Linked DNA regions of Homo sapiens. The protein of the gene in region 2 interacts with the protein of the main gene of each other region in a pairwise test. Each region holds a gene or a part of one and is shown on either strand. Other genes may lie near its edges. The genes, in order: CLVS2 and TACC2.

The links.
Region 1: the proteins of TACC2 (region 2) and CLVS2 interact in a two-hybrid assay, tested with the Homo sapiens proteins (one large-scale study listed by BioGRID).

Annotation. Positions count from the first base shown.
Region 1 is NC_000006.12:123,009,589-123,013,409, reverse strand, and holds part of CLVS2 (clavesin-2), read right to left. Parts: intron 2,426-3,821; coding exon 2,251-2,425; intron 1-2,250. UniProt on the Homo sapiens protein: Required for normal morphology of late endosomes and/or lysosomes in neurons. Binds phosphatidylinositol 3,5-bisphosphate (PtdIns(3,5)P2).
Region 2 is NC_000010.11:122,208,938-122,212,758, reverse strand, and holds part of TACC2 (transforming acidic coiled-coil-containing protein 2), read right to left. Parts: intron 2,886-3,821; exon of another isoform or gene 2,790-2,885; intron 2,363-2,789; coding exon 1,051-2,362; intron 1-1,050. UniProt on the Homo sapiens protein: Plays a role in the microtubule-dependent coupling of the nucleus and the centrosome. Involved in the processes that regulate centrosome-mediated interkinetic nuclear migration (INM) of neural progenitors.

The DNA.
Region 1 (3,821 bases), on a different chromosome or scaffold from region 2:
TGACTTATTTAAAATCTTCTCATTTCTTCATTTTACTGACTAACTGGAAGAGGTTTATTACTGTTGTGGTGTTGATGGTCTTGGCATGGTGGTGGCTGTGTTTAGCAACCTAAAACTGTGTATGTATCTTTACTTCAAACATTTTGTGGTCTTATTTTGATATTGAAAAAAATGTTTATTCATATTCTGAATGAAACATATAGTGGTACACAATATTTGTCACATAGCAAATGCAAAGTAAAACAGTGACTTGATTTAAAAAGTCAGAAAGTGTTACTTCAGTACGAGACTAAATATGAGATCATGCATGTCACAACGGAACATTTCTAGCAATCCTATATTCTTATTCAGAATTACCATTGTTTTTAGATATACATAGAGTAGACACAGACACAGATACAGACACAGACATAGGTATAGATGTAATTATATAGCATTAAAAAGTCAATTTGAACTTAAAATAAAAATGAGTTTAAAGGTTAGTAACACATCAAATCTATTCCCAGGAAGAGCTTTTTTCTCTTAAGTGGCGTCTTAATTGGGAATTAGGAGGAATCAACCCTTCTTACTCTGTCTTGTGTTCTGGGAAAAAGGAGAAAGGGGCTGAGATATTTTTGGGGAACAGAGAGAAGGCAGCTCCAAATGTGCAGCCATTACAGGTCCATGCAGAGAATGGGATTATTTCCTTCACTAGACATAAGCACAGAGGTTTCATCTGAGTGTAGTTCCTTGGTGTTCACAGGTAGCACTTAAAGAACTTCTGATAGTAGTTACAGCTAACAAGGAAGCTCCCAAACATCTCCAAATTGTCAGTTTGTTCTCCTGCAATGACTTATCACAGTATTATTAAAAAACTCCATAAAGTAGGTTGGAAAATAGCAAGAGTCTATTCTTGAAGTGTTTTTTTTTTAATTTCTTGGGAAAGAAAAATATGAGTTCTCCAGTCCTTCAGGAGCTGAAGGCCTAGCCTAGCTCTAGTGCAAAGAGAAGACACAGGTTAAATAGGGATAACAATTATAAAAGGCTAGGTTACCATTCTGTGTTAGGTAACACAGTGGGTGGTAACCAATCTTGTTCACAAACTGAAGAACACCATATACATTGCTGGAAAAAGGGCAGAGTTAGGACTGATTCTATATGATATACACATTTCCAAACATGCATTATCTTATGCTGTCTACCATCCTGTATTAACTGTCCCTGTGGAGGTTTTTAAAAAGCATTGTTTAAGATAAGAGAGGAGCAAGGCTGTCTCACCAAGAGCAAGTCAGGAAGCCTACATCAGGAAAAACCTATATGGAGAAGAAACATCAGTGTGTCTTATTCAGTCCAGAGGCAGAAATCGAAGATTTCCAGCACCTGGAAAAGTTGCCCACTTTTAAGAGGTCAGCAGTTATCAATTTAGGTGTGTATAGATGCAGTCAGAAATTACTAATGAGTAAAAATCTAGATGACTTGGGCTTACTCAACATTGATGCCCCAGTCTAATGAATTACATCACTCAAGGACTAACTTGTAAATATTTTTAGAAGTTTAAAATCAATTCCATAAGCATTGTACACAAAGTAGCATAAAGCAAAGAGAGAGAATAGAAGGACACCCTGGAAGTTAAAAGCAACTTGACAATAGCAGGTTTATGACAGACCACTAAATAATAATATGTTTCCCATCTTCTAATTCCCAAGTAGTTAAACATTACTCACTGGAAGAAGCACTATTCCTATATAAATTCCATGTGACAGCCCCTCCCACTCACAAAAAAACCCAATGAAGTCTAAAGAAAATTTAGAGAGATGATCTTTGCATCTTAGAGACCAAAAAACATATTGATTGACTTTCCAACAGTTGAACATATTGCTGATCATATCCCAAATTCACCAGGTTAAATGAAATAATGAAGAAAATATTTAGCTAATTAATAGGCACAGAAAAAAGAAACAAAAACAAGCCTAAATAGCTAATCATTACAATCTAAAAAATGTTGCTTGTTCTGATTTTCAGATTAAAAATCTCAGCTCATTACCTGTATTTGTTTAGACAGGGAGCACTGTACTAGTGTCACAAACTCTCTTCCTTCAGCGTTTCTTCTATAATCCTTTCTTCAGTTAGTATTTTAATGTTTGTGCTCAAAAACTACAGATTTTTTTTGTTTTTGTTATTCTGTAAGTAAGACATTTTTTCATTCTAACACATTAGACAAGAGAAGTCAAACACAAGAGACCAAGGAAGTAGGTAATTTCCATATCCTACCTGCAGGCCTTCAATAGCTAATCGCAGCATACTTGGTGTGAGTTTAGAGGCTTGCTTGAAAGTGAAGTTACTCCAGTCTATGATCAAAACAAACCCATTCACTTGAAGCTCAGGATCTTCAATCATGGCTTCTAAAGAAAGTAAGATGGCACGCAAAATATCCACCAGTGTGTACCTATCGGCGACAGAAAAGTACTAAATTAGGTCTGACAACCACTTTTCCAAAAAGCTATAAAATATTTTCTAGCACACTAAAAATTCACTTTAAAATACCTTCAGAATCTTAAGGAAATAATTTTGTTTAAAAACCTATTTTAGGAAGAGGTTTAATTTATATGTACTCCAAGAACATAATCGAATTTAACATGTATTCTGCCCAAACAAATGGAAACGCTTTTTCATATTTTATCATCATTTAGTTTACCTCCAGGCCTTCTTTTGATTTTCTAAAATCTCATTCAACTAACCCAAAACTAGGCATCACACGTTTTAAGTGGTTCAAGAATGCCTTCAGTAATATTGACATTTCATATCTTCGTATTTGAAAAAACTGAGAATGAGATTTGAGTGAGTCTCATCAATAAATGAAAACACTGTACATGACAGCTATCAATAAAAGTTACTCAATTCAAATTACTTGTATTGAGTTTGTATCATAAAGAAAAGGAAAGGTGGTAGGGATAGAAAGAGAAGGAGATAAATATAAATAAAAGTGGGAAAAGTCATGGAAATTTACCTACAATAATACAAACCATCCTAATTCAAGGGTTGGATCTTTTTTTGTTGTGTTTTGTTTTGTTTTGTTTTCTGCTTTTCACCTTAGCAGGTTAGTTCCTGAAACGTTCCAGTAACCCAATAAATGCTCTTTATATTACTGTGAAAGTGACTTGACTAGAGTAGAAAGACACTGGTTGGAGATTAAGACACTGCTTCAATGGAGGCAACGGAACTAAGAACAAAAATAAGAAGCCAAATTTGAGTGGCATTTTAGACAATCTTGTTATACTGTGACAATGTGAGGACTGAAATTAGGGAAGAGTAAAAAATGACACATATTTTAGCTTCAGAGCCTGAATACATAGTAAAATTTTTAATCAATATCAATAATGCAAAAATAGGATACTGTTGGAAATGGCTGGGAATACAAAGTTTTGAATAGAACTTATTGTATTTGAGAAACATGTAGTATACCCAGAGAGGTATATCAAGCAAGCTTCTGAAACAAATGGATCCTAAACTCAGGGGAGAGCCCAAAACTGAAAATTCTGGAATTAAAAGCTTATAGACTCTAAGTTCAATGAAGTGAAGGAGGTAATGCAGTCAGAGCTAAGAGAAATATCAGATAATTATTCTAAAAAGGGAATCCCTAGAAATCTCAGCACTTTAAGAGGAGTGAGAAATTTTATGGAAGATGTTAACAATTTCAATTTTTGTACACTTTGCATTTTAAGTTTTTTCCCCGGACACACTCAGGAGAGATTTCAGGAATAGCTAGAGAAAGAGATCTGGACCTCAGGGAAGAGGCAGGATGGGGAGGGGAGTGGATTAGGAGTCGAAATCATTCCCATTTA
Region 2 (3,821 bases):
AGGTAACCTGCTGTAGAGACCTCCTCTCAGGAGGCCCTGGGTTCTTCTCAGAAATTCAATGTTAGGGGGAGCCCAGAATGGGAGGTAAACATGTCGTTCTGTCTCTTTCGTGCCAGGCAGACCCAGAGGGGCCAGCGCTGTGGTCTGTTCTGCTGCCCCTGGGAGACTGATCTCCTCAGCCTTGTTAAATTACTGACAATACTTCCCGTAAGAGTAAGGAAATCGCCAAGATATTAACCACAGGGGCCAAAGAATAAAGGACCAGCAGCCATCCACATTAGAGCCGGGTCCTGGGGTGGATTCTGGAGGCATGGGTGTTTGATATTTAAGCACGATGTACTTGGCCTTGTCAAGTGTCTGGGGACCATAGAGCCAAGGACCAATGGCTTCCTGGGGATTGTGGGGATTTGCTCCCCACTTTCAGGTTCCATTTATCTCTTCAGAACTTGCAGGGACTTTGTCTACAAAAGATGACTGGAGAGAAGGAAGGAGACAAAGAAGGGTGTTTCTTACGGGCTGGTTGGAGTGCAGCAGGGAGGGGCCCAGGCCACATCTCTCATTCCTGAGCCTCCTGGAATCTACTATGTTTGTAGGTTGGGCTAATGTCTCATTAATAGGCAGAAACAAGTACTATACATTTTAATATTTTAAAGGGTGTATCTCCCAGCTTCTCCAAAAAGCAATCAGTCACCAACAGGGAGATGAACCAGATCTCTAAGGACCTTTCCCCTTCCATGGGATCTCCCAGATTGCTCTGGAGTTGAACATTAGGTCTTTGGCTACAAGTAAAGCTCCAGCCCATTGATTTATTAAAGCAAAAGATCAAGGACACAAAGGGGTATGTGGATGGGAAAATGCCACCACTGTGACCGCAGAGAGGAAGGAAAACACGTACATTGTCTGCTTGGTGCAACGGCCGTAAGCGTGGCATCATCACAGCACCCAGGGGCAAGGTTAGGGCAGTCGAAGGTTATCCAGGCACATGACCAAGGGTCACAGCCAATGCGCACCCCCGCCTCTGATCCTTACCACCTCCACCCCTGAACTTACGTCTTTAGGGGCGTCTTCTTCTTCTTGGCGGGCTTGTTTAGCCCATCCCCGTCCACTCCATTGGCTTCCATAGCACTGGCTGGGATCTCAAAGGAGGCTGGGGATTTAGAAGGTGAGCTGGGGGTCTTAGAGGATGTCTTAAAGGGGTCAACGGACTCATCACAGGTGTCTGGGTCAAAGTTGTATGATTGTTGGGGCAGTTTGGGAGACTCCTGCATTTTTGAGGTGGAAGAAAAAGGGTTAAAATTGGGGTCATCCCACTTGTCAATATCAAAGGTGTAAGTACCTTTAGCAATGGGGATGTCATTGGGTTCAGCAGGGGATCTGGGAGGTGAGGCAGGAGTGTTGTCAAGTTTCTCGGGTGTCTTTTTCATCTTTGGCCTCCTCAGGGGCATTTTGGCAACTGGCTTTTTGCCTATCTTTTTGGTAGGAGGGGGGTTTTCCTGCTGGTTGTCCCAACTACTCTTGTCCTCAGAATAGTCAAACTCCAGCCTTACGGAGAGCCCTTTGGCTGGAGAGTCCTCTTGCCCCCCGCTATCCGATGGGGTTACCTCCCCTGCCTCCGGGGCCGTGGTAAGAGGCAGCGTTTTCCTCCCGACAGGGGGTGAGTTCTGCACTCTGCCACCTCCAGAAGCCGGGGGGACAACCCCTTCTGCACTCTCTGAGTCCAGAGGGCAGGCAGCTTTGGGCCCCACAGCGGGCTCAAGGGGCGTCTCCTCCAATAAGGCTGGGCTAGGACCTTCCGTCTTGGCAGATTCCGTTTTCGTCTCAGATGCTAGATTCTCCCCACTGGGGACAAGGCTCTCTTCATCTGGCTCCTGTTGCGTCTCCTTCACTGGGGGGGTCTCTGTGGGTTTCTTGGTGGTCTGTTTCTTTTTTAAGGAAGGCGGCCTCGGTTTTTTAGTTCGCTTAAGGGTACTAGAAGCACTGCTGGAACCCGTGCTATATGCATCTGGGGCAAGGGCCACGGCCTCGGGATTGCCTGAGGAAGAAGCACCATCAAAGTCACTGGCTTGCAGGCTGAGCGACCGGGACAGTGTAGACTTAGAGATGGGGACGGAATCCGTGGACTTCCTCCGTGTGTTCACTTTGCCCTCCTGATTCTTAGCGTCTGAGGCACGAGGCTCCAAGGTCTGAAAGGTATCCACAAGCTCAATGTTGTCAAAGTCCAAGTTGTAAGTCCCACTGCTGGCTATCGGCTTGTCTTCATCGAAGACGGCAGAGAAGGAGTGTGACGGGGGACGGAAGGGACTTCCTTCCACCGAGTCGCTCCGTGGGCCATCAGGGACAGGGACTGTCTCAGAACCACATCCTGGGGAAACACAGACAACGCCATCAATTACAGACACAGGACGCATTGGGGCACCTCTCCTCTTGTACCAAAACATCACCCTCCAGCGTAGGGGTTGACAAACCACGGCCCCAGGCCACCCCGCCCATCACTGTGTGTACTACTTGGGTACAGAACCTGACCTACCCGTAATTAGCTCAAGACCCAGGCCAGGTTCGCCCAGAGTTCCCTCATCTGTACAATGAGGATCATGAGGACCGATTAAAGAACAGCTCAGAGTATTCATTCAAAAACATTCACCAAGTGCCTAATCAGGACCAGACATGGTTCTAGGTACTAGAGATTCAACAAGGAACAGAAATAGACAAAACCTTTCCCTTCCTGGAAGTCACATTCTTCAGGGGAAGATAGCGAATAAACCACCAGGGCCGGGCATGGTGTCTCACACCTGTAATCCCAGCACTTTGGGAGGCCGAGGCAGGCAGATCACTTGAGGTCAGGAGTTTGAGACCAGCCTGGTCATCATGGTGAAACCCAGTCTCTACTAAAAAAACACAAAAATTAGCCAGGCATGGTGGTGAGCGCCTGTAATCCCAGCTATTCCGGAGCCTGAGGCAGGAGAATCGCTTGAGCCTGGGAGCCAGAGGTTGCAGAGAGCCGAGATTGCGCCACTGTACTCTAGCCTGGGTGACAGAGTGAGTGAGACTCTGTCTCAAAAACAAACAAACAATGTACAGAATTTCAGAGGGTGATACATGCTAAGGAGAAAAATAAAGCCGGGATAGGAGAGTTTCACTTTTAAAATAAGGTAGTCAGGCAAGATCTTCTGAGGAGACATCTAAGCAAAGGCCAGAATCAAGGTAAGTGCATGAAACAGGAGGACTCCTGGGGAGGAAGCATCCTGGGTAGAAGGAATAGTGCGAGTAAAGGCTCTGCGGCAGGAGCACCTGGTGCGTTACAGAAACAGCGAGGAGGCCAGTGTGGCTAAAGCAAGGGTCAAGAGTGGGACAGGAAGACAGAGAAATCCTGCAGGAAGGCATACGGAGGCTTCCATAAATATTCATACTAGCCACGGCCACCAGCAAGCCTGTTCTTGACTCCTCAGAGCCACTGTGAAGATCAGGGGAGCCTGTACACGGAGGCCCCCGGCACCTGTAGTAGCACTTGCTGTCTGCCACCTGCCGCTCCAGCCATCACCTGTAACCTCTCCTTCAGTCCTGCCTGCCTATCCTTGGCCCTGCCTCTTGCCTAGTCTCACTGCTCTCCCAGCTGCCTCCTCTCAGCTTTTCTACCTCATCAGCCCCTGCCAGTCAAGGAGGTTGCTCCTATTTCCCAAACATGCTGCAGATGCTGCAAATGTTGGCCAAATGATGCTCAAAGGTGCCACCACCCTACTGCCCATGGGGATCCGGCCAGCCCCAGCTTTGGCTTGGCTACTCTAGGTTCTGCTGGCACCCAGCGGCATCTTTCATGCATTTCT